Linked DNA regions of Homo sapiens: all the other regions are linked to region 3. The links come from fine-mapping of genetic effects on gene expression. A gene starts in region 3. Each other region holds a variant in brackets. All regions are shown on one strand. Distances are between the middles of the regions. Region 1 has its middle 9.9 kb from the start of RNU1-1. Region 2 has its middle 17 kb from the start of LINC01772. Region 3 holds the start of NECAP2 (NECAP endocytosis associated 2).

The links.
Region 1: its variant is fine-mapped to the expression of NECAP2 in whole blood (TOPMed, PIP above 0.99).
Region 2: its variant is fine-mapped to the expression of NECAP2 in whole blood (TOPMed, PIP above 0.99). The same link has a PIP of 0.9 or more in T cells and blood mononuclear cells.

Annotation. Positions count from the first base shown.
Region 1 is chr1:16,500,262-16,508,439 of GRCh38, forward strand. No RefSeq gene overlaps it. Among named protein-coding and RNA genes, the nearest start is that of RNU1-1, 9.9 kb to the right of the region's middle. The variant A/G (reference allele first, on the strand shown) is at 4,785.
Region 2 is chr1:16,474,313-16,482,490 of GRCh38, forward strand. It overlaps the pseudogene CROCCP3. Among named protein-coding and RNA genes, the nearest start is that of LINC01772, 17 kb to the left of the region's middle. The variant C/T (reference allele first, on the strand shown) is at 3,631.
Region 3 is chr1:16,436,931-16,445,108 of GRCh38, forward strand. It overlaps NECAP2 (NECAP endocytosis associated 2), which reads left to right and starts at 3,794. Exons shown (of 8, transcript NM_018090.5): 1 at 3,794-3,923; 2 at 6,702-6,802. The coding sequence starts at 3,832. SPATA21 (spermatogenesis associated 21) reads right to left here and starts at 494. Exons shown (of 13, transcript NM_198546.1): 1 at 198-494. RefSeq lists a silencer at 1,224-1,394.

The sequences.
Region 1 (8,178 bases), 63 kb after region 3:
TAGAGACAGGGTTTCACCGTGGTCTCGATCTCCTGACCTCATGATCTGCCCGCCTCGGCCTCCCAAAGTGCTGGGATTACAAGCGTGAGCCACTGTGCCCGGCCAAATTTTTGTATTTTTAGTAGAGACGGGGTTTCACCATATTGGCCAAGCTTGTCTCGAACTCCTGACCTCGCGATCCACTCGTCTTGGCTTCCCAAAGTACTGGGATTACAGGCGTGAGCCACCGCACCCGGCCGAGATCATTCATTTTCAAAGGGAGAGGCAGCTCTGAATCTCTAGGGCTAAGAGAGGGATGTGTTTGGTTTGAAAAAGCATGTTTAATTTAATGATTTTGTGTTTTTTCCAAACACAGTACCCAGAGAGAACGGCCAGCAGGCCCGCGGCTGATGGTTGCTTCTGTGTTTCCTGCGTGGTAGGAGGGAAGCAGTGGAAGTTCCATCTTTGTCAAAGAGGAACCTGTCTGTGACATCTGAAACACTGCACTAAAGGCTGCCAGTGTGCCCTTCGGGCTCTGAAACCCGGCCCAGTGCAAGCAAGACTGTGGCCTGGACCAGGGCTGAGAGCTGTTTGTCAGGAGAGATTCGGGCCATTCCCTGGGGTTTGGGTTGGAAGGGTGATGTTACCAAGATTGGAAGGAAGGTCACAGTTTCCCTGAGGTGTCCCTGGCCCAACTGCAGGAGGGCTGACTGACATCTGCCAGTATGCACAGCCAGTCCCTGGATGCCCAGCATGGCCCAGGTCTGTGTGACCCTGTCTGGAGTCCCCAGACTTGCTATGTCCCTACCCAGGCCCTGGTGGGCTCATGACCTCCCCAGTCCAGTTCTGATGCTGCCTGTCCCTGTGAAGCCCACTCCAGTGTTCATATCACCAGGGCTGGGCTCAGGCCTGTGTCCTTGCCCCTCTCTCCAGGGCATCTTGGGTCTCCCTTGGTGACAGTACCTGCACCCTGCGGGCAGCCTGCGCTGGCTGTGAACCACACTGCCGCCTACTTCCTCTTCTATGTTCCCGCTCTGTCCACAGTCCCCTCTGAACACTCCCGTGAAGCAGGTTCTAGGATCATCTCCATTTTATAGAAGGGGAGATTGAGGATCAGAGACATGCAGTCATTTGCCCAAGGACACACGCAGGAAGTTCAATGGCTTCCAATCCCATGCTCTTTCCTCTACACCGTGCTGACTCACTTGAGGTTTTAACAGGGGGCGGCAAACACAGCTCCTCTCCCCTTGACCCTCTCACTCCCAAAGCCCATAGGACCCTGCCGCAGGGTGGCACATACTTAACCTCCTTGGGGGGGCCTCCAGCTCCCCTCTCTGTGTAGAGCCTACGTTCCCTGCTGTGCTGAGTCCTTGGCTCTGCTCAGCTCAGCCTGACCGGGCTGCGGTCATTTGAATCCCCAGTGCTGCCGCCCACCGGTCACCCTGTCCTGTCACCAGGTGGTGACTGGCCCAGTGACCCCCAAGACAACCCGCCAGAAAAGAATCATGCCAGGTGCTCACCTGCTCACTGCAGAGGGCTCTAAATCTGCAACTCAGGTAACAGGGAAACAACTGATTGGAGTTACCACCCTCAGGTTGCTAAGGCCAAGTGCCTGCCAAATCCAGCGGCTCGGCTGGGGTGGACTCTGCCCACCATCAGCAAAACGACATTCACCAGGAGGCTTAGAGGTAATTGCTCTGGTTAACTGGATTTGCTGGGCATCTGAAGGCTAACTTGCAGAGTCTTTCTATCATGCCAGACTTTAATAGCAAAAAGTTAGAAAGACCTAAACATTCAGCAGTAGGGGACTTGTATAATAAACCATGGGTTATTCATATAATGGCACACTATGATGTCATTCCAAATGTTATAGAAGAATGTTCAATGACTGGACAGATGGTTACGATATATTAAGTGAAAGTTTCAGAAAAGTAATACAGAATAAGCCCATATTGTAAAAAAAAAAAAAAAAGATTTCCTTTTTTTTTTTGAGACGGAGTTTCGCTCTTGTCACCCAGGCTGAAGTACACTGGCGCAATCTCGGCTCACTGCAACCTCTGCCTCCTGGGTTCAAGCAATTCTCCTGCCTCAGCCTCCCAAGTAACTGGGATTACAGGCGCCTGCCACCACACCCAGCTAATTTTTGTATTTTTAGTAGAGGTGGGGTTTCAGTGTGTTGGCCAGACTAGTCTTGAATTCCTAACTTCAAGTGATCCACCCACCTCGGCCTCCCGAAGTGCTGGGATTACAGACATCATCCACCAGCCCAACAATTCACTCCTGACCCAATGATTAAAAAAAAAAAACTTGTAGGCCGGTTGTGGTGGCTCACAATGTACTACATTTGTAGACATTTTGGTGCCTTAATGTGAGCAAGGGTTGCACAAGTTTTGATAGGCATGTATTCCAGAGATGTATAGAAATTCTAGTTACTGGCTGGGCACGGTGGCTCATGCCTGTAATCCCAGCACTTTGGGAGGCCAAGGCGGTGGATCACGAGGTCAGGAGTTCAGGACCAGCCGGGCCAAGATGGTGAAACCTTGTCTCTACTAAAAATACGAAAATTAGCTGGGTATGGTGGCGGGCACCTGTAATTCCAGCTACTTGGGAGGCTGAGGCAGAGAATTGCTTGAACCCAGGAGATGGAGGTAGCAGTGAGCCGAGATTGTGCCACTGCACGCCAGCCTGGGAAACAGAGCAAGACTCTGTCTCAAAAAAAAAAAAAAAAAAAGCAGACATTCTAGTTACTTATAAATTTTTGGGAAAGAAGCCTGGAACTAGATTCTTGCTTTAGATAGTAAGGAACTCTAATTGCCTCTAAATTCCTCAGATAAGGAGTTTTGCCTCTGGATGGTCTGCTTTATGGCCACCAGGTGATTTTTGCTAGCCTTGGTGACCTTTTACGTGTAGGATTTTTTTTTTTTTGGATACGGAGTCTCGCTCTGTTGCCCAGGCTGGAGTGCAGTGGCGCAACCTCGGCTCACTGCAATCTCCCCTACTAGGGTTCTAGCGATTCTCCTACCTCAGCCTCCCAAGTACCTGGGATTACAGGCACCCGCCACCATGCCTGGCTCATTTTTTTGTATTTTAATAGAGATGGGGTTTCGCCATATTGGCCAGGCTGGTCTTGAACTTCTGACCTCAGGTGATCAACCCGAGGTTGGCCTCCCCAAGTGCTAGGATTACAGGCATGAGCCACCCTGCCCAGCCCTAACGGTGGGCTTTTTTTTTTTGAGGCAGGGTTTCACTGTCTCCCAGGCTGGAGTGCATGGAGAGCAGTTGTTCCAGCATAGTGATTACATGGTTTTTATATCATTCCATTTTCTTTCCTTTGTTGGCTTATTAGGTATAACTCTTTCTTTCTTCTGGTCCACCACTCCCTGACTTCTTTCCCTCCTTTTGCTTTTTCAGTGAAGGCTTCAGGGTTTCCAGAATACATCTTTATCAGTGCCATCTAGTGACATTATACCTCCCCTTCTGGCCATTATGCTAGTGTTGTCATGTAATTTGATTTTAGACATGTTATAAAACCCAGAATCCATTATTATTGCCTTTGTTTAATCGGTCAAATTATTTTAAAAGATTTAAATAATAAGAACATGTATATTTAACTGTGTACATACCGATTTCCAGTAGTCTCCATTTCTTTGTGTAGATGCAGATTTCTGTCTGGTATCCTTGTAGTGTGGGTTGCTGAATTCTTTCATTTTTTTGTATGTCTTTAAATGTCCTTATTTCAGTCACATTCTTGAAAGATTTTTCACTTTGACATGGAATTCTAGGAAAACTTTATTTCTTTCAGTACTTTAGGATGTTGCCACTTTGTTTTTGTAAAACTGGCATAAAGTTGGCTTCCTGTACTTATATAATTTTTGGAATGTGTATTTAAGTTAAAAACATTAAAATGGGCTGGACCAGGTGGTGCATGCCTGTAGTCCCAGCACTTTGGGAGGAGGAGACAGGAGGATCGCTTGAGGACCAGAGTTGGAGACCAGTATGGGCAAGATTGCAAGACCCTGTCTCTCTGTCTCTCATACACACACACACACACACACATCATGAATGTCTTAGATTCATTGTAAGTTCCACCGACAGTGCGCTTAAAGTAAAATGTGCCCAACCTGAGGGTCAAACCTACCTGCTGACATGTAGTTTGTGCTTGTGAGACATTCTCAACAGCATTTCCTTTCCCTAGCATAGTGGTTTTCGTGTTTTCCTCACACCTGAATGTCTTAAGTGCAAAACCTGTCAGTCAGAAATCATTTCCTTTGCCAAAAGATTCTAAAATACTTTTTTTTTTTTTTTTTAGGCCAGGTGTGGTGGCTCACGCCTGTAATTCCAGCACTTTGGGAGGCCAAGGTGGACGGATCATGAGGTCAGGAGATCGAGACCATCCTGGCTAACATGGTGAAACCCTGACTCTACTAAAAATACAAAAACAAAATTAGCTGGGTGTGGTGGTGGGCGCCTGTAGTCCCAGCTACTCCGGAGGCTGAGGTGGGAGAATGGCGTGAACCCAGGAGGCGGAGCCTGCAGTGAGCTGAGATGGTGCCACTGCACTGCAGCCTGGGCAACAGAGCGAGACCCCGTCTCTAAATAAATAAATAAATAAATAAATAAATAAAATAAAGTGAAATAAATTTTTTTTGACATCAGCTCACTGCAACTTCCACTTCCCATGTTCACAGGATTCTCCCGCCTCAGCCTCATGAGTAGCTGAGACTACAGGCCTGCACCAACACACCCAGCTAATTTTTGTATTTTTAGTAGAGACAGAGTTTCACCATGTTGGCCAGGCTGGTCTC[A/G]AACTCCTGACCTCAAGTAATCTGCCCACCTCTGCCTCCCAAGGTGTTGGGATTACAGGCGTGAGCCACTGCGCCTGGCCAAAAATACTCTTACTTCAAGGAAAAGTGCTTTAAAAATAAACTTCTCAGTTGCATCCCTGGAATCCATAGAAAGCCCAGGAGAGACAATCAAGTACTACAGGATCAAGCATTAAACAGGGGAAGACAAAGCCTGGCTTCCTAACTAGGAGTCAGGACAAAGTTATCTGCTTTGGTTTCCTATGGAGACCAGAACTCGGTTCACCTGCAAAGGGAGGATGCAGCCCAGAGGAGGCAGACTTTCTCTTCATGGTGCCTTCAGATAGGAAATCTCCTAGGATTTCTTTCTTTCACTTTGATCTACTCCCAATGCTCCCTTTCTGTTTCTTCAAGACCTTTCTTGGATCCCTAATGTGCAGGACCTAAGGGGCTGGTGCCCTTCCCTACCCTTCCTGCCTGGGTGTCTTCAGCACCGGAGCTCACACAGAATGTTACTGCCTGCCAGAGACAGTGAGAGGACCAAGGAGGGCGATGGGTGCAGTGGGAACTACTGAGTCACCATGTACCTGTGCCTCATGGGCTCCTAGCAAATTGAATAAACACTCCCTGAAGCATGGCACCAGTTCCAAGTACAATTACTACTTGGCTCTATGAGCTGAGTGCACGTTCCCCCCAGCACGGAAATCCTAGAAACTCCCATGGATGCTATAGTGAAAAGCAGGGGCTGGCCAGGTATGATGGATCACACCTGTAATCCCAGTGCTTTAGAAGGCTGAGGTAGGGCGGATCATTTGAGTCCAGGAGTTGGAGACCAACCTGGGCAACATGGAGAAACTTCAACTCTTAAAAAACAAAACAACCACCACAACAACAAAAACAACAGAAATTAGCTGGCTGTGGTGACTCGTGCCTCTGCTACTCCAGAGGCTGTGGTAGGAGGATCACTTGAACCAAGATGCCACCAGATACAGTGAGACTCTGTCTCAGGGAAAAAGTCAAACAAACAAAAAAAGAGGCTGTGTAAGAGGTGATTCTGGGGACAGCGGAAAAACACTAAGGTTTTCAAGTGGTGTTAAAAGCCAGTAGGCCTTGGGGACCATTGAGCAATCTACAAAGCAGGGAAGCCTAGATCCCTGAGCTCTGCCTGCCAAGTACCACCACAGCTAACATGGGAGACCTCCCCCACAGAGACTGAAATTTGCCTCCCAAGGAAACAAGTGACTACAGACATCTGTCCCAGGACAGTAAACAAGAAAACAAGGTGTCACAAAAACAAAAACAGCTGACCACAGCATACAATCACTGAGACTGAGCCTGCGACTATAGGCAAAAAAAAAAAAAAAAAAAAAAAATGCCGTCTATTATTCATACCATGAAAGACCAGGGGAAAGTGTGAACGCAGTCCCCTACTACTGTTGTGGGAATCAGGAGAACAGAGAGACCGATAGGTGGAACAGGAGGATTTATTGACTGCACTCAGGCACAGTGGATTAAAATCCAAAAGCTGAGCCATGAACAAAGACAGGGCTTGACTTTATAGACACTTCTGAAAGGGGGTTGGCTAGTTTGAATGGCGCGGCGGGAATTTGATGGCACGAAACTCGTGGGGCAGGCAAGAGGGCTTACAGAAGCAGAAGAAAGGCAGCTAATCAAACTGTCACAGGTCTTGCAATGCAAGTATGGCTGGTGACCTTGCAGCTGCACTGAAGGGAAATCGGGAACTTAACAAAACTTGAATAATTAGAAATGGAAAGGGGGAAAGAGAAGGTAGTAAAGGCATTTGTTGTTTTTTCCTCTTATCTTTGCTAGGGGCTGTGTTGAGAGAGTCTCCGGAACGCATTCCTCGGGGCTCTGACTTTTCAGATCGTGTTACCGAGGATCTGCTAGGGCTCTATCTATGGCAGGTCTTGGAGTCAGCCAAGTACAGGGAAACCTGTCTTTTCCTTTTAACTTCTGCCTGATTACTACAAGTTGTACAGCACACCATGCCTGGTTTTCATCAGCAATGTTTCCTGAGGTTACAGAAAGATTTCTAATCCTGGGAGGAAACACTCCCTTGAAGCAAAAGTGTTCTCCCCCAAAAAATGCAAGGAGCTATCTTCTTGATAGCCAGGCAGATAATTCTCAGGTTTTGCCCCACAGAATCTCGATCTAAAATAGAGCAGTGGTCATGCCTAGTGAAAAGTTTGAGGGAACTCACCCAACGTTGGGTTTCTTCAGAGCCATATATATAGATATAACCAAATATCCTAAAAGACACTGCCCTTCATCATTCCATGCTGTTAGACATTTATAGGACCATGGATGGTGATCTCCTCCAGACAAAAATAAATGCTGGTGCAGAACAGGTAAGTGTATTATAATTTGAGTACATCAGCTTTTGGGCATTTTAAACCATGGGTCAGACATGTTAAAGAAAGAGCCAGGTTGATAGTAAAAGGGAGTGTTTTTCTATTAATTTTCCAATAGCAAAGTGATGTTTGCCACTGTCATTTCAGAGTGAGGGGACAATTTGTTGTTGTTTGGTTTTGTGGGTTTTTGTTTGTTTGTTTGTTTGTTTGTTTTTGAGACAAGGTCTCACTGTCACCCAGGCTGGAGTGCAGTGGCATGATCAGGGTTTACTTCTGCCTTGACCTCATGAATTCAAGCAAACCTCCTTACTAATCCTCCCAAGTAGCTGGGACTACAGGCACGTGGCCCCACACCCTGGGGTGTGAACTGGGATTTGATGTTTTCAGTTGGCTCTCTAATGGAATAGGTTCCCTTACTCTTGTAGAATCAGATTGTCTTCATGATTATCATTCTTGTGTGCATTATATTTCTACTACCCTGCTGTTTTTTTTTCTATTTTTCTTTTTATTTTTTTCTTTGTGAGACAGAGTCTCGCTCTGTCTCCCAGGCTGTATTGCAGTGGCAGGATCTCAGCTCACTGCAACCTCCACCTCCTGGGTTCAAGCAATTCTTTTGCTTCAGCCTCCTGAGTAGCCACCTGGCTAATTTTTGTATTTTTAGTGGAGACAGGGTTTCACCATGTTGGCAGGCTGGTCTCGAACTCCTGACCTCAAGTGATTCACCCGCCTCAGCCTCCCAAAGTGCTGGGATTACAGGCATGAACTACCACACCTGGCTCTCAAACCATTTTAGTTAAGCAAAGACAGATTTGTCTGGCTTTTTAGTACAATGCTGAATTATCCTCCAATCTATATTTTTAGGAAGGACCTGGGGAATGGCAACTTGGAGATATTTGGTGAAAATGTGAACCTTTCATGTTCTGCTTCAGTCTCTTTTTGAAAATCCTTCCAATTTACCTTTTGCAACCAGTTAGTGGCCTTCCCTTCTTCACCAGCATGTGAATTAATTGATAAAGATCAGAATA
Region 2 (8,178 bases), 37 kb after region 3:
CTGGGACCGGGAGAGTGTCAGCTGGGTGAATCCCGCACACGGGCGCGGGGGCGCGGCGCGTAGTTGTGGAACCGGATACCCCGCGGGCTGCTGGCTCCAGCGCCTCCACCTGCCACTGGGCCAACCCCCTGGGCCTCCTCCAGCTTCTGCTCCCGCCAGCTCAGCTGCTGGGAGAGCTGGCCCCCACCCAGAGACTCAGCAGAACTCCCAGCATCCCCCAGCTTGTTGATCGTGCAGCACCCCAACTCTGGGCCTAACCCAGTCCTGGCAGAAAGCCTGGGTTCGAGCCCAGGGTCTGCCCTGATGTGCTATATGTGCTTGGGCAAGTCATGACCTTCTCTAGCTCTGCAATGCACGTGTGTACAAAAACCAGGGCCCGGCCGGACACGGTGGTGCACGCCTATAATCCCAGCACTTTGGCAGGTGGATCACTTGAGGTCAAGAGTTCAAGACCAGCCTGGCCAAGGTGGTGAAACCCTGTCTCTACTAAAAATACAAAAATTAGCCGGGCATGGTGGTGCACGCCTGTAGTCCCTGCTACTTGGGACGCTGAGGCAGGCGAACAGCTTAAACCCCGGAGGCGGAGGTTGCAGTGAGCCCAGATCATGCCACTGCACTCCAGCCTGGGCAACAGAGCAAGACTCTGTCTCAAACAAAACAAAACAAAACAAAAACCAACAACAAAAAAGAGGGCCCTCACTCAGCTTTGGGAGTAACAGAACCCTTGTATTACTCTAAGAAGAGAAGCTGAATATATAAAACAGACCCAAGTGCAGCTGCTCAGCAGGCCTCAAGGTGGAGACCTGCACCCTGCTTCTTGCACCCCCTACCCCATCCTCTAGAGGCCCCTCCCAGAAACCCAGGCACTCCAGGATAGACCTTGCATGAAGGTCCCTGGATCCCTGAAAATGAGACATTAAGGTCTCTTCCAGATGTGATGTTCCCAAAAGTCTAAGATTCCAATTCTAAAAAGTCTCGACCTATTATTAATCTGTATCATTATTATTATTATTATTATTATTATTATTATTATTTGAGACAGAGTCTCGTTCTGTTGCCCAGGCTGGAGTGCAGTGGCACGATCTCGGCTCACTGCAACCTCTGCCTCCTGGGTTCAAGCGATTCTCCTGCCTCAGCCTCCTGAGTAGCTGGGACTACAGGCGCGTGCCACCACACCCAGCTAATTTTTTGTAGAGATAGGGTTTCACCGTGTTAGCCAGGATGGTCTTGATCTCCCGACCTCAGGTGATCCACCCGCCTCGGCCTCCCAAAGTGCTGGGATTATAGGCGTGAGCCACTGCACCCAGCTAGCCCCATGCTATAGATGGGGCAACTGAGGTATGGGGAGGTTGGGCAGCTTGTCCAAGGTCCCCAGCTAGCAGAAGTGGGGCTGGATTTAACCAAGAAGCAGGCTCCAGTGCCTGTGACTTAACCCAGGACTGGATGCAGGGGGCTGGGAGCCCAGCCTGCCCCACATGCTCTCCACACCACCCCACACACAGCTTGGCCCACCTGCGCTAGCTGCTCCTGCAGCCGGCTGCACTCATGATGCAGCGTGGGGAGCTGCTGCTCCACTGCCTCCTGGGCCTGCTCCGCCGCTCATAGGGAGCCCTCCAGGCCCTGCCGCGCCACCTCCTGTTCCAACCGCAGCGCCTCCAGCCGCTCCTGCTCTTCCCGTGCCACTGTGGCCTCCTGCTTCGCCTGCCGCTGCCGGCCCTGCAGGGCGCACTTTTCTTCCTCCAGCTGTGGCCTGGGTAGGAGTGGGGCCTCGTGAGCAGGGCATCCCTCCCAGGACCAGGACGCCTCCTCCACCCACCCACCAGCCACAATAGCCCAGGGGAGGCTCCCAGGCAATGAGGGACAGGGCCCTTGGGTGTGTGGGACACTGGGGAGGGAGAGATGAGGAGGGCCCATGGAGCTTCTGTGCTTTGATGCCTAGAGAGGATAGACAGACAGAGACAGACAGAGAACCAGAGACAGAAAGGGAGGCAGGGGCCAAGACAGGTACAGGGCTGGGCCCGGGGTGCCTTACTGAGTGGGGAGGACGGGTGGGCAAGGCAGGTGGGCCCGCAGGTGCACAGCGTACCTGGGTGACAAGGCGGTTCAGATCCAACTTGTCCTGAGCAAGGCTCTCGTTGAGGGCGCTCAGCTTGGACAGGGAGTCCTGCAGGGAGGCCTCCTCTGCCCTCAGCCTGGAGGGCAGGGCCAGAGTTCAGAGGATCCCCTGAGTAAGGTCTAGGGATAGCACTGCTCAGAGCCCAGGCTGCAGCGGACAGCGCAGGCCCCCCCGCCAAGGACCCTCTGCGCTGTGGCCACAACTCTCAGACCCCAGGAGCTGAATCTCAGGATGACCCTGAGCTATAGGCACTGCCCCCAGGAGCATCCAGAACAGCAGGGATACGGCCATAAAGAGAGGTCAGTCCACTTATGGCTGGGACCAGAGGTCCAGAGGTCTGTGGTCTGTGACAAAGATCAGCCTGTATCCAGAAGGAAGGGGTCAGTCTGTGACCAGGCTCAGAGGTCTGCCTGACACTGGGACCAGTTTGTGCCAGAGTGAGAAGGCTTGGGGCTGGGGGTCAGATGTAGGTTTGTGGTTGTGCAGCCAACAGGGACCCACCTTGGTCAGCGCCTCGGCCACCTCGGCCTTCTCGGCCTGCAGCATGTCCCGTTGCAGTGTGGCGCGGCTCAGCGCCTCCCTCACCTCCACCAGCTCCTTGGCCAGGACTGAGCGCTTCCCTTCCAGCTGCTCCAGTTGTCTATGGCTGCAGGACAGAGGGCAGGTGGGTGGCCCATGTCACTTTCCTGCCCCGAATCTCCCACAGCCAGCGAGATGCTTGGCTGTGGACCAGGCCTGAGGCAGGAGTTTGGAGAGAAACAGCCTGAGCCACAGGGCAACCAAGCCCACTACTGCTTAGCTCCATGACCCTGGGCCTCCGTTTCCACATCTGCAAAATGAGGTAACACCTACCTTGTCACATAGTTTCTTTGTTTTCTTTGAGACAGAGTCTCGCTCTGTCGCTCAGGCTGGAGTACAGTGGTGAGATCTCAGCTCACTGCAACCTCCGCCTCCTGGGTTCAAGCCATTCTCCTGCCTCAGTCTCCCGAGTAGCTGGGATTACAGGCATGCACCACCACGCCTGGCTAATTTTTGTAGTTTTAGTACAGACAGGGTTTCCCCATGTTGACCAGGCTGGTCTCGAACTCCTGACCTCAGGCGATTCGCCTGCCTCGGCCTCCCAAAGTGCTGGGATTACAGGCGTGAGCCACCGTGCCCAGCCTGTTTTAAGGCTACAAACTTCACATGTGCTTAAAATAGTGCCTGACACATCTCCCCAAGGACCTTCAGAAACAAGAATAACATGCTCCACCACAGTCTACTAAACATCATCAGCGATCACGTCCCTGAGAGGTAAGCAGCGCAGTGGTGAAGAGGTTAACTCTAAAGGCAGAATGTCTGGGTTCAAATCCTGGCTCTTCTAACTAGCTGTGTGACCTGGGGCAAGTGACATGGCTTCTCTGTGCCTCAGTTTACCGTCCATAAAATGAAGATAACAGCTTCTATGTCACAGTTATCATAGGTTAAATGAGAGAACTGAATTGCTTAAAATGGTATCTGGCACTTAGTGAAAT[C/T]AGTAAGGATATTATTATGATCATAACTTAATTTAAAAAATACTATCGTTAATATTACTACTGTTATTTTAATTATTCTTGTTATTATCATCCAAGTTCTACCTTTTAACTAGTTCTCTGACCCCAGGTAAGTGAGTACACCTCCCTGAGCCCCAATTTCCTGCAATGGGTCTGGTTAGAAAACCCGACATCAGAGGGGTCCAGATGGTAGGAGGCCCAGGACCCAGTGGGTGCTCCCTAACCCCCGGGGCACTGTCAGGGGACCTGAGGCACATTTGAAGGGCCCTGGCAGGGTGGCGAGATGCTGTTCACCTGTGCTCAAGCTCCCGGCGCACCCGCACACCATCCTGCACTGCGTCCTCCTGCTCTTCCCCCAGCCAGTACCGCTGGCGCCGCAGCTCCTCCTGGGCAGCCTGCAGCTTCTTCCGCTCCTGCCGCAGCTCCTTGGCCTGCTGCTGGGCCACCTGCAGGCTGTGGGCCAGGTTGCTCTTCTCCCTTCAGGACAAGCAGAGGGGATGCTGGGGCTGCTCTCTGCAGGGAAGGTGGCTGGCTGCTCCTCTAGCCATGAGCTATAATCTCCCGTTTTCCAAGGAACCTGCCTCCAGGAAGCCTTCCCTGACCCTGCCCGTAGCTGACTCATTTCACTCACATCCTCCAGCAGAAGAACCTGGCTTTCCTTCTCCCCAACCCATCCACTTGGAGTGGATGGAGGTGCTGGCTTTATCTCCAAGCACCCTACCAGGTAGAAGAGGCCAGGTTAGGCTCCTGGGATACATGGGCAATTGTGCCACCAACCCTGCTAGGCCACGTGACCAGGAAATGTCCCCTATAACAACCCATGCCCCTCAATTCTGGGAAGCCTGATAGAGCTGAGTCTGCAGATCCCATGGCTTCCTGCTACACAGTCACATGGTGGCCACGGCAGGGGAGGGAGGAGAAGGGAACAACTGGGACCCCAAAGACTTGCCGTGAGCTGCCACGTTCCCCACTGGCGGTAGGTGCGAAAAACTTTCCCGATGTGATTTTCTTTTTTTTTTTTTGAGACGGAGTCTTGCTCTGTCACCCAGGCGTGATCTCGGCTTACTGCATGCTCTGCCTCCCAGGTTCATGCCATTCTCCTGCCTCAGCCTCCTGAGTAGCTGGGACTATAGGCGCCTGCCACCACACCCGGCTAATTTTTTGTATTATTAGTAGAGACGGGTTTTCACCATGTTAGCCGGATGGTCTTGATCTCCTGACCTCGTGATCTGCCCGCCTCGGCCTCCCAAAGTGCTGGGATTACAGGTGTGAGCCACCACGTCCAGCAATTTTTTTTTTTTTTTTTTTTTTTAGACAGAGTCTCACTTTGTCACCCAGGCTGGAGTGCAGTGACACAATCTCAGCTTGCTGCAACCTCCACTTCCAGAGTTCAAGCAATTCTCCTGCCTCAGCCTCCTGAGTAGCTGGGATTACAGGCACCTATCACCACGCCCAGCTAATTTTTGCATTTTTAGTTAGAAGTGGGGTTTCACCATATTGGCCAGGCTGGTCTCAAACTCCTGACCTCAAGTGATCTGCCCGCCTCGGTATCCCAAAATACTAATTTTGGGCTAAAATTGGGCTAAAAGGGCACACCCAGCCCTAATTTTTTTATTTTTATTTTTTTATTTTGTACTTTTATTTATTTATTTTTTTGACACTCTTGTTGCCCAGGCTGGAGTGCAATAGTGTGATCTCGGTTCACCGCAAACTCTGCCTCCCATGTTCAAGCGATTCTCCTGCCTCAGCCTCCCAAGTAGCTGGGATTACAAGCATGCACCACCACGGACAGCCAATTTTGTATTTTTAGTAGAGACAGGGTTTCTCCATGTTGGTCAGGCTGGTCTCAAACTCCTGAACTCAGGTGGTCCTCCCGCCTCGGCCTCCCAAAGTGCTGGGATTACAGGCGTGAGCCACTATGCCGGGCCAATTTTTAAAATTTTTAGTACAGATGGGGTTTTGCCATGTTGGCCAGGCTGGGCTCAAACTCTTGACCTCAAGTGATCCACCCGCCTTAGTCTCCCAAAGTGCTGGGATTACAGGCGTGAGCCACTGTGCCCAGTTGACAACGTGCTGTTCAGTAAAACACACTCAGCCTGAATTTTCACTTTTTAAAATTTTTAATTAAATTTTAATAGAGCCAGACACAGTGGCTTATGCCTGTAATCCCAGCAATTTGGGAGGCTGAGGTGGGAGGAGTGTTTGAAGCTAGGAGTTCAAGACCAGCGTGGGCAACATAGTGAGACCCCCATCTCCACATTTCACAGAATGCAAAATGGGATGTTTGCTGTGAACACAACTACTTAAAAAGACCTTCTCCTTTCCAGGCATGGAAAGCCTGGGTTTACTCTCCCATGGACCTGAATTCCAATTCCCACCCTGCCACCCCAGCCACACATGCTGTATGAGTCTGAGCGAGCCTCTCAAGCTTACAACAAAAGAGTTCTGAATTGCATAAGTTTGACAGGAAGACTAAATCACAGAGTATGTATAAAACACTCAGCCAAGAGCCTGGCACACAGTAGGTGTGAAGGAAACGTTTGCTATCTCACTGCCAGGCAACACAGTGGGAAGGAAAACCAGTGCCCTACATGAGTTAGGATGGGCAGATGAGGCTGTGAGAAGGCGAGGTCTTTTTATTTCTATTATTTTTCAAACTTTTCATTAGATGGTTACATTTATGAAGAGAAAAACCAAACAACAAAATATCAAAAACAACCTGGCAGCTAAGTGGATAATTTCTTGTCTTAAAAATCTTCAAGGTGCAAAGAACGGTGGCTCATGCCTGTAATGTAGCACTTTGGGAGGCCGAGGTGGGCGAATCACCTGAGGTCAGGAGTTCGACACCAGCCTAGCCAACATGGTGGAACCCCATCTCTACTAAAAATATAAAAATTAGCCAGGCATGCTGGCAGGCATCTGTAATCCCAGCTACCAGGGAGGCTGAGGCAATTGCTTGAACCTGGGAGGCGGAGGTTGCAGTAAGCCAAGATCGTGTCATGGGCAACAAGACTGCGGAAAAAAAAAAAAAGTGGATAATTTCTTGTCTTAAAAATCTTCAAGGTGCCGGGTGTGATGGCTCACACCTATAATCCCAGTACTTTGGGAAGCCAAGATGGGTGATCATTTGAGCTCAGGAGTTAGAGATCAGCCTGGGTAACATGGCAAAACCCCATCTCTACAAAAAACAGAAAAATTAGGCAGGCGTGGTGGTGTGTGCCTGTAGTCCCAGCTACTCAGGAGGCTGAGGTGGGAGGATCACTTAAGCCTAGGAGGTGGAGGTTGCAGTGAACTGAGATCGCACCACTGTACTCCAGCCTGGGTGACAGAACGAGACCCTGTCTCAAATTAAAAGAAAAAAACAATCTTCAAGGCTAGGCATGGTGGCTTATGCCTGTAATCTCAGCATTTTGGGAGGCCGAGGCAGGGGAATCGCTTGAGGCCAGGAGTTTGAGACCATCCTGAGCAACACAGCAAGACCCCATCTCTGAAAACAAACAAACAAACAAAAAACTCCAAGAAATACGGTCCAGAATAGCGCTGTCAATAGAACTCTCTGAGATGACAGAAACATTCTATGGCCATGTGTGGTTGATGAGTGCTTGAAATGTGCCTAGGGCAACTAAAGAACTGAATTTTCTTTTTCTTTTTTCTTTTTCTTTTTTTTTTTTTTGAGATGGAGTCTCGATCTGTCACCCAGGCAGGAGTACAATGGCGCAATCTTGGCTCACTGCAAGCTTCGCCTCCCAGGTTCACACCATTGTCCCGCCTCAGCCTCCCGAGTAGCTGGAACTACAGGCACCCGCCACCACACCCAGCTAATTTTGTTTTTGTATTTTTAGTAGAGATGGGGTTTCACCGTGTTAGCCAGGATGGTCTCGATCTCCTGACCTCGTGATCCGCCCACCTCGGCCTCCCCAAGTGCTGGGATTACAGGTGTGAGCCACCGCATCTTTTTTGTTTGTTTGTTTTTGAGATGGAGTCTCACTACGTCTCCCAGCCTGGAGTGCAGTGGTGTTATCCTTGCTCATTGCAATCTCTGCCTCCGGGGTTCAAGTGATTCTCCCACCTCAGCCTCCCGAGTAGCTGGCATTACAGGAGCATGCCACCATGCCTGGTTAATTTTTGTATTTTTAGTAGAAACCGGGTTTCACCATGTTGGCCAGCCAGCTGGGTTGTGAGCCACCACACCCAGCCTGAATTTTCACTTTTTCAAATTTTTAATTAAATTTTAATAGCGCCAGGTACAGTGGCTTGTGCCTGTAATCCCAGCAATTTGGGAGGCTGAGGTGGGAAGAGTGTTTGAAGCTAGGAGTTCAAGACCAGCATGGGCAACATAGTGAGACCCCCATCTCTACAAAAAATTTAGAAATGTTGGGGGCTTGTCTAGTATCCTTGGGGCTGAGATCAGAGTTGCCCAGGAACCCAGGGAGGTGAGGGCTCAGAGGGTGATGAGGGCACAGAGGAAGGGAGTGGAAACCTAACTCTCAGGCTTCGGTCCCATATCCTTCCCCAGGCCAGGCCCAGGCC
Region 3 (8,178 bases):
TTTTCAAAATTCTTTGGGTATTGAGTGCCCCTTTTATAAGTGGTTTCCTCATCTGAAAAATGGGAGAATTTCTCTTGGAAATATCTATGATGGCAGGAAAATACAGCAGATAAAGATAAGTGGCATATCATATATATGTCTGGAGGCCGTCAGGGAAAGCTTGTTCACCTTACACCCCACCTTGGCCCTGCACCTACCAGAAATCAGCTGGATGAGTCACAGTGAGATTTTCCACCCCTGCTCACCGCCTTGCACATAGGATGGGCTCTGTCTGAGCCTATACTTTGCCTGTTGGCTTGAATTGGATTTGTTTGGTATACAGGGCAGTTAAACTGGGAATAGATGGCAGGTCCAATTATTCTCAGCAGCAGAGGTTTAGGAATGCATTTCAGGAATATCCAGCCATGTGGTTAGGGTTTGAGAATAAGGCAAGGGGCTGTGTGACCTCCAACTACTGGACAGTGTCATTTCCCCCAGCTTGTCACTGGTTCAGTGGCCCCCATTACACAATGAAGATAACAATCGTTGCCTTGCCAACCTCACAGTGATTATTGGGCCAGGGTACTCTCTCCCAGAAAGCCTTCCCTGACTCTCCCCAGACTGTGTGGGGTTTCTTCTCTTTGCTCCCACAGGCCCCTGTGAATTTGCTTCATTACAGTACCTTTCATTCTGCTTTGCCAATGACTGCTTTTCTCTCTGTCTCCTCCAGTCTGCGAGCTCCAGGATGGTAGGAGCTGGATTGGCCACATCCCAGTGACCCCAGTACTCAGCACCTGGCATAGGGTATGTGCTCGATGCCTGTCTTTGTTAGACTGAACAGAACTGAAAGTGCTCTGAATGGCTGGGTGCGGTGGCTCACACCTGTAATCCCAGCACTTTGGGAGGCCGAGGTGGGTGGATCACTTGAGGTCGAGTTATAGACCAGCCTGGCCAACATGGTGAAACCCCGTCTCTACTAAAAATACAAAAATTAGCCAGGCATGGTGGCGCATGCCTGTAATCCCAGCTACTTAGGAGGCTGAGGCACGAGAATCACTTGAACCTGGGAGGCAGAAGTTGCAGTGAGCTGAGATCATGCCACTGTCTTCCAGCCTGGGTGGTAGAGTGAGACTTAGTCTCAAAAAAAAAAAAATTGGAAAATAAGGCCAGGTATGGTGGCTCATGCCTATAATCCTAGCACTTTGGAAGGCTGAGGCAGGAGGATCTCTTGAAGACAGGAATTCAAGACCAGCCTGGGCAACATAGCAAGACCCCCGTCTCTACAAAAAGTAAGAAAAATAGCAGGGTAGGGTGGTGTGTGCCTGTAGGCCCAGCTACTCAAAAGGTTGAGGCAGGAGGATCCCTTGAGCCCGGGAATTTGAGGCTGCAGTGAGTGATGATCGCACCATTGCACTCCAGTGTGGGGTGACAGAGAGAGAAAGAAAGAGAGAGACCCTGTCTAAAAAAAAAAAAAAAAAGAAAAGAAAAAGAAAAGAAAAGAAAAGAAAAATAACCAATATTTGCAAAAATGTGAAGAAATTGAAACCCTTGTGAACGTAAATGGTGCTGCTGCTGTGGAAGACAGTTTGGAGGCTCCTCAAAAAGGTGAGCAAGGCCGGACATGGTGGTTCACACCTGTAGTCCCAGCTACTTGGGAGGCTGAGTTGGGAGGATCACTTGAGCCTGGGAGGTTGAGGCTGCAGTGAGCCATGATCATGCCAGTGCTTTCCAGCCTGGGCAACAGAGTGAGATGCTGTTTCAAACAAAACAAAACAAAACAAAACCACTAAACATAGCATTATTGTATAACTCAGCAGTTTCACTCCTATGTATACACTCAAGAAAATGGAAAACAGGACTAGAACAAGTGTTTGAACACCAATGCTCATAGTAGCCCGATTCCCAATACCAAAAGGTGATAACATCCCAATTGTTGACAGATGAATGGATAAACAAAATATGGTATATACATGCAATGGAATATTATCCCTCCATTAAAAGGAATGAAATTCTGATCCATGCTACATGAAAGAACCTTGAAAACTTGATGCTAAGTGAAATAAGAAACACAAAAGCCCAATATTGTATGATTCCACTTATAAGAGGTATCTAGAAAAGGCAAATTCATAGAGACAGAAAGTAAAACAGAGGTTACTAAGGGATGGAGCAGAAGGAAATGGGAAGTTATTGCTAATGGGTGTGGAGTTTCTGTTTGGGATGATGAAAAGTTCTGGAAAGCATGATATAGTTGCACAATATTGTGAATGTACTTAATTTCACAGCATTGTACACTTAAAATGGTAAATTTTATGTTATGTATATTTTACAATAAAAATGTAAGTGGTTAGATCAATCCTATAATAAAAAGCTTATAAAAAATGAGTAGAAATGGCCAGTCGTGGTGGCTCACGCCTGTAATCCCAGCACTTGGGAGGCCGAAGTGGGCGGATCACTTGAGGTCAGGAGTTCAAGATCAGCTTGGCCAACCAGATGAAACCCCCGTCTCTACCAAAAAAATACAAAAACTAGCCAGGCTTGGTGGTGGGTGCCTGTAATCCCAGCTACTCGGGAGGCTGAGGCAGGAGAATCGCTTGAACCCGGGAGGTGGAGGTTGCAGTGAGCCGAGATTGCACCACTGCACTCCAGCCTGGGCGGCAGAGTGAGACTTTGTCTGAAGAAAAAAAAAAAAAAAAGTAAAAAGGAGAAGGAGAGTGAGAGAGAAAAGGAAAGAAGGGGTGGGGAAAGTTTGGGGTATTCAGTGAATCAGAAGTTTGGGATCAGCTTCACCCCCACATAGGGGCTGGCACATTGCAGGCACTCAACTCAATGAGAGAATGGTAGGGAAGGAGGGATTTTGAGAATTTGGCTAGGGTAGACATTGTATCTCCCAGAATATTCTGGGAGAAATCGAAGTTAAGACTGGAATTCTTCTTCTTCTTTTTTTTTTTTTTTGAGACAGAGTCCCGCTCTGTCACCCAGGCTGAGGTGCAGTGGCACAATTTCAGCTCACTGCAACTTCCGCATTCCGGGTTCAAGCGATTCTAGTGCCTCAGTCTCCCAACTAGCTAGGACTACAGACACACGCCACCAAGCCCGGCTAATTTTTGTATTTTTAGTAGAGACGGGGTTTCACCATGTTGGCCAGGCTGGTCTCGAACTCCTGACCTCAGGTGATCCGCCCGCCTCAGCCTCCCAAAGTGCTGGGATTACAGGCGTGAGCTACCAAGCCCGGCCTGGAATTCTTCTTAAATTACTTGTGTTACTAAACTTTACTTCTTTGAATACAACTCGTTGTTGAGGTTTGGCCACACGGGGCCCTGAGCATATAAGTGGGTTCCCCTAGGGGAAGCATGGAGGGTGGTAGGGTAATGGCATCTATTTAGTCTGGTGGGTCAGGTGCCAGCTGAGCCTTACAGTCAGGAGAGGGAAGGATATTCAGGCAGAGGAGGCGCCGAGGCAAAGGCTGGAGGACAGAGATACTGCAGGGTGGGCTACAGCTTTGCCTCTCGGTCAACTGGGCCCCAGGCCTAAGAAACTGAAGCGATGGGGATGATCCACACCCAGACCACGGGTTACAGAGGGGTCTGTCCATGGCGGGCGCAGGGCGCTTTCTTTGCGTCGGAGGGTGTCTGGAGGGAAGGAGAAGCCTCTGGAGGGAGGGAGAAGCCTCCGGAGGTCGCCCGCCACGTGTCTTGAGCCGGGTTTCCAGCAGAGGGCGCACAAACGAGGCGGTGCTGAGGCCCGCGAGCTGCCGCTCTAGCCGAAACCTGGTCAGAGAGTCGCACCGCTTCCGTCCGTCGGACAGAGGAACGGTGGAAGTCGCCGGAAGTTCGGTGGGCTCCAGGCGTCGCGATGGAGGAGAGCGGGTACGAGTCGGTGCTCTGTGTCAAGCCTGACGTCCACGTCTACCGCATCCCTCCGCGGGCTACCAACCGTGGCTACAGGTGACTACCCACCGCCAGACCAGGCTAGCTCCAATTTAACCCTTTCTCCGCCACCCGGACACACCCACTGCGGGAACCGAGGACAGCCCTGGCCAGTTTTGGGGCGAGGGGGAGCTAATGCTGCTGCTTCTTCCAGTTCCAGGCCCGAGCAGGGAGGTGGATCCAGAGTTTCGCCCGTCTCAGTTCGACGCACGGGACTCCTGGCGGCGGGGAGGGCGTTAAAGCCGTATCTAGCGCTTAGGGACCCCGGTGGGCTGCCGGGTACCCTAAACTTGGTCGGGGGTGGTGATGTCACAGACGCTTCTCTTTCAGCGCTAACCGGTGGCCTTGAAGGGATCCTCGAAAAGCCTTAAGCGGGGAGGTGCCCTATCACAGACGGAAATCCCCGAGAGGAGGGGAGGGAGCCCAGAGCCGGCTGAAAGGACCGGTCCCGGGGAGCTTTAAGGTGACGGTCGAAGCCCAGGGACCCCTTCCTACCCAGATCCCTTCGCACGAATTTCACCCTTGATCACAGCCTGGAGCAGTTGGGAGGACCCCTTCTATATTTCTCTGGTCTCTACCTGAGACGAATAAACACACACGCTTGTAAACATACTGAGTATCTCTGCAAAGGAACACAGGAAACTGCCCTAGGGGAGGGGAACCGCCCTTGGAAGGAAACTTCCTTTCCCTTTTGTGCTGTTTGCGTTTTACTACTCTTTGTATGCGTTATCTATCAAAACGACGAAAAATATTAAAAGAAAAAAGATACACTTCATACAGACAACCTGGCCTATGGCTATTTTGTGCCACTGAGTGGTGGTGGGGAGTGCTCGTATTTGCGGGGGCCTGGGTGGCTCTTGAAGGCGATGGTTGTCCAAGTTTTTCGGAAATACAGGATTGGTCTGCACCCCAAGAATGATGGAACGTCCACATTTCCTCTTGTTACTTTCCAGTTGTGTTACCGTGGGCTCATAGCTGATCTTATGGTGAAAAGATGCGTTAGTGAACATTACATTCATGACATATTTTAAAATAGTATAAAAACAAAAACAACAATAACCAAAATACATTTGTTTTCTGTCATCAAACTGTGGTTGGACCATCAAACCATTGATGGTCGTCTAGCCCCATCTCCTGTTGGGTCTTTTTTTTTTTTTTTTGAGACAGAGTTTCCCTCTTGTTGTCCAGGCTAGAGTGCAATGGTGCGATCTCGGCTCACTGCAACCTCCGCCTCCCGGATTCAAGCGATTCTCCTGCCTCAGCCTCCCGAGTAGCTGGGATTACAGCCATACACCACCACACCCGACTAATTTTGTGTTTTTAGTAGAGATGAGATTTCTCCATGTTGGTCAGGCTGGTCTCGAACTCCCTACCTCAGGTGGTCCACTCGCCTCGGCCTCCCAAAGTGCTGGGATTACAGGCAGGATCCACCGCGCCCGGCCCCCTATTGGGTCTTTAGTAGGATGGATTTGGTTCCTCTTGGTGCCCCAGAGAGCGAGGTTATGAATTGTCAGGGCTGGCTGGTTTAGCTTAGAGGAAACTACCAGTGCCTGCACTTAAGTCTTGGAGCTCTCCTTAGCCTGAATCTCAGGCCTGGTAAGAGGAACAGGAACTGAGTCTGCTGATTTGTGAATTGAGAATCTGCATTTGTGCAGCCCTCAAGACAGCCGCGTCCAGGGTTCTTGAGAACTGGCATAGGGACTTCTAAGAAAAGCCTCCTGGAAACACCTGCGGTTCTTGCTATTTGGGGATTTAACTGACCTTTTCTTAGAACTAAAATGTGAAGTTAATGCTTTAAAAGAGTCAAAACAGCTGGCTGTGGTGGCTCACGCCTGTAATCCCAACACTTTGGGAAGCCTCGGTGGAAGGATCCCTTGAGCCCAAGACTTCAGGACCAGCCTGGGCAACATAGACCCTATCTCTATAATTTTTTTTAATTGGCCTGGTGTGTTGGTACACACCTGTAGTCCCAGCTACTCAGGAGGCTGAGGTGGGAGGATCTCTTGAGCTCAGGAGGTTGAGGCTTCAGTGAGCCGTAGTTGCGCCACTGCACTTCAGCCCGGGTGACAGAGTGAGACCCCGTCTCAAACAAATTAGAGCCAAAAGAGGCATTGCTGTAGGTTCATGGTTTCCTGGGTTTCTTCCTAAGGACCCATTCACTTTTCTCACATGTACTGTTGTTCTCCTTTTCTCTTCTGGTGATTGTTCCATGCTGTCTTTTTCTTTCAAGATAGTCTCACTGGTCTCAAATGGTCGCTCTGACTGCTGCAGTCAAGCAGTGTCAGAAACAGAATCAGGCCCCTGCAGCTGCTGCTTCTATAGAAAGGAAACTGGAAGGAAGTCCTACGTGGAGGAGGACACTGTGGTCTAGAGAGGGGGTCACCAAGTGACAACCCAGTGTGTTTTTGTATGGTTCACACCTAAGAATAGTTTTTACATTTTTTAAATGGTTTGGAAAATTTTTAAAGGAGAGTATTTCATACTGGGAACATTACATGAATTTCAGATTTCAGTGTCTACACTTTGATTGAAATACAGCTGTGCTCAGTAGAAAATAGTTAAGATACCTAAAGCATCACCACGTGCATGTTCTATACTGATTTTACCCTACAGCAGCCGAGCTGCCTTGTTGTGACAGGCTGTGTGGCCTGTAGAGCCAAAGATATTTACTGTCTGACTCTTTACAGAAAATGTTTGCCAACTCTTGGGCTAGAATAAGCAGCCCTTTCCATTCCCAGCATTGGGGTCACACAGCAGGAGCCTCTGGCAGAGATTCAGTGGTGTTTGTCCCCTTAGGGCTGCGGAGTGGCAGCTGGACCAGCCATCATGGAGTGGCCGGCTGAGGATCACTGCAAAGGGACAGATGGCCTACATCAAGCTGGAGGACAGGACGTCAGGTAACCGGAAGGGAGGCTGCATCAAGCTGAGGGGCCGCACCCCACTTTATGAAGGGAGAGGTGGCCTGGTCTGGCCAGGCTGCTCAGGGGTCATGGGAACCTGTCCTGAAAAATCAGAGACGTGTGTGTACCTTTAAGCTGTACCATTCCCCCACCTTAGTTGTAGAAAGTACCGTCTCCAGGTGTAAAAATGAGTATTTCATGTCAAACACTAGTTCCTTTTAGGAGTCCTCAGGAAAATGTGGGGGCCAAGGAGAGGAGACCGCAGCTTGGTCCTGGTAGGAAGTAGGAAGCCCTGGAAGTGGCCTTGAAGACAGGCGGGTGAGGATGCACAGCCCTCTGCCGCTGGGCTCTGCTTCCTACTGAGGAATTGTTTATCAATGCAGCGGTAACTCCCAGAGCTGACCACACCCATTAACCGAAGAAGCTGGAAACTGTCCTACTCAGCTCTTTCTGTAGTGAGAGGACGAGCTGAGCTGGGTTGTGTTGGGGTCAGCTGGCAGAGATCGTCTTGGGGGAAACTTCACAAGTCCTGGGCCACCTGTGCCTCTGGGTGAGCTGTGGAGGGCAGTGCACCTGGAATCCCCCAGCCGAGACCCCTAGTGGGGTCGGACACAGTGTCTGCTCAGTCAGGTGCCACAACATTCGGTCATTTATTTTTTCTAATATGTAGAGATTTTCCTTTGTAGAGCAGAAGAGAAAGTGCAAAAGTTTAGAGAGAGAACTGGCTGCCTCTTCTCAGAACTATGTTCTGCCTGAGCTGCTGGATGTGGGGTGAGCCACATGACCTCTGGGGCCTTGGCCTCCTCCTTGTTGAAATGGGGATCATATTAGTTCCTCCTTCATAAGATTGTTGGAGAATAGGAAGTGAGCAGATATTTCTGTAATGCTTTACGGACTGCGAGGCAACCCAAAGCATTGATGTGTTCTTCGGGAACTTGGGTACTGGCGGCAGAGGAGTTTGGAGAGGCAGCTGCCATGGCCAGACCAGAGACTTTAAGCTGGAGAATTGCTGGGACACCCCAGGTAGTGTCATAAGAGAATGGTAACACCTCGTTCTCTGAGGAATTTGGTAACTGCGACTTTATTTTAAAAAATCATTTGTTTTTAGATGGAGTCTTGCTCTGTCACCCAGGCTGGAGTGCAGTGGCACGATCTCAGCTCACCACAACCTCTGCCTCACAGGTTCAAGCAATTCTCTGCCTCAGCCTCTCGGGTAGCTGGGATTACAGGCGCCCCCCCACCACGCCCAGCTAATTTTTTTTGTACTTTTAGTAGAGACGGGGTTTCACCATATTGGCCAGGCTGTTCTTGAACTCCTGACCTCGTGATCCGCCCACCTCGGCCTCCCAAAGTGTTGGGATTACAGGTGTGAG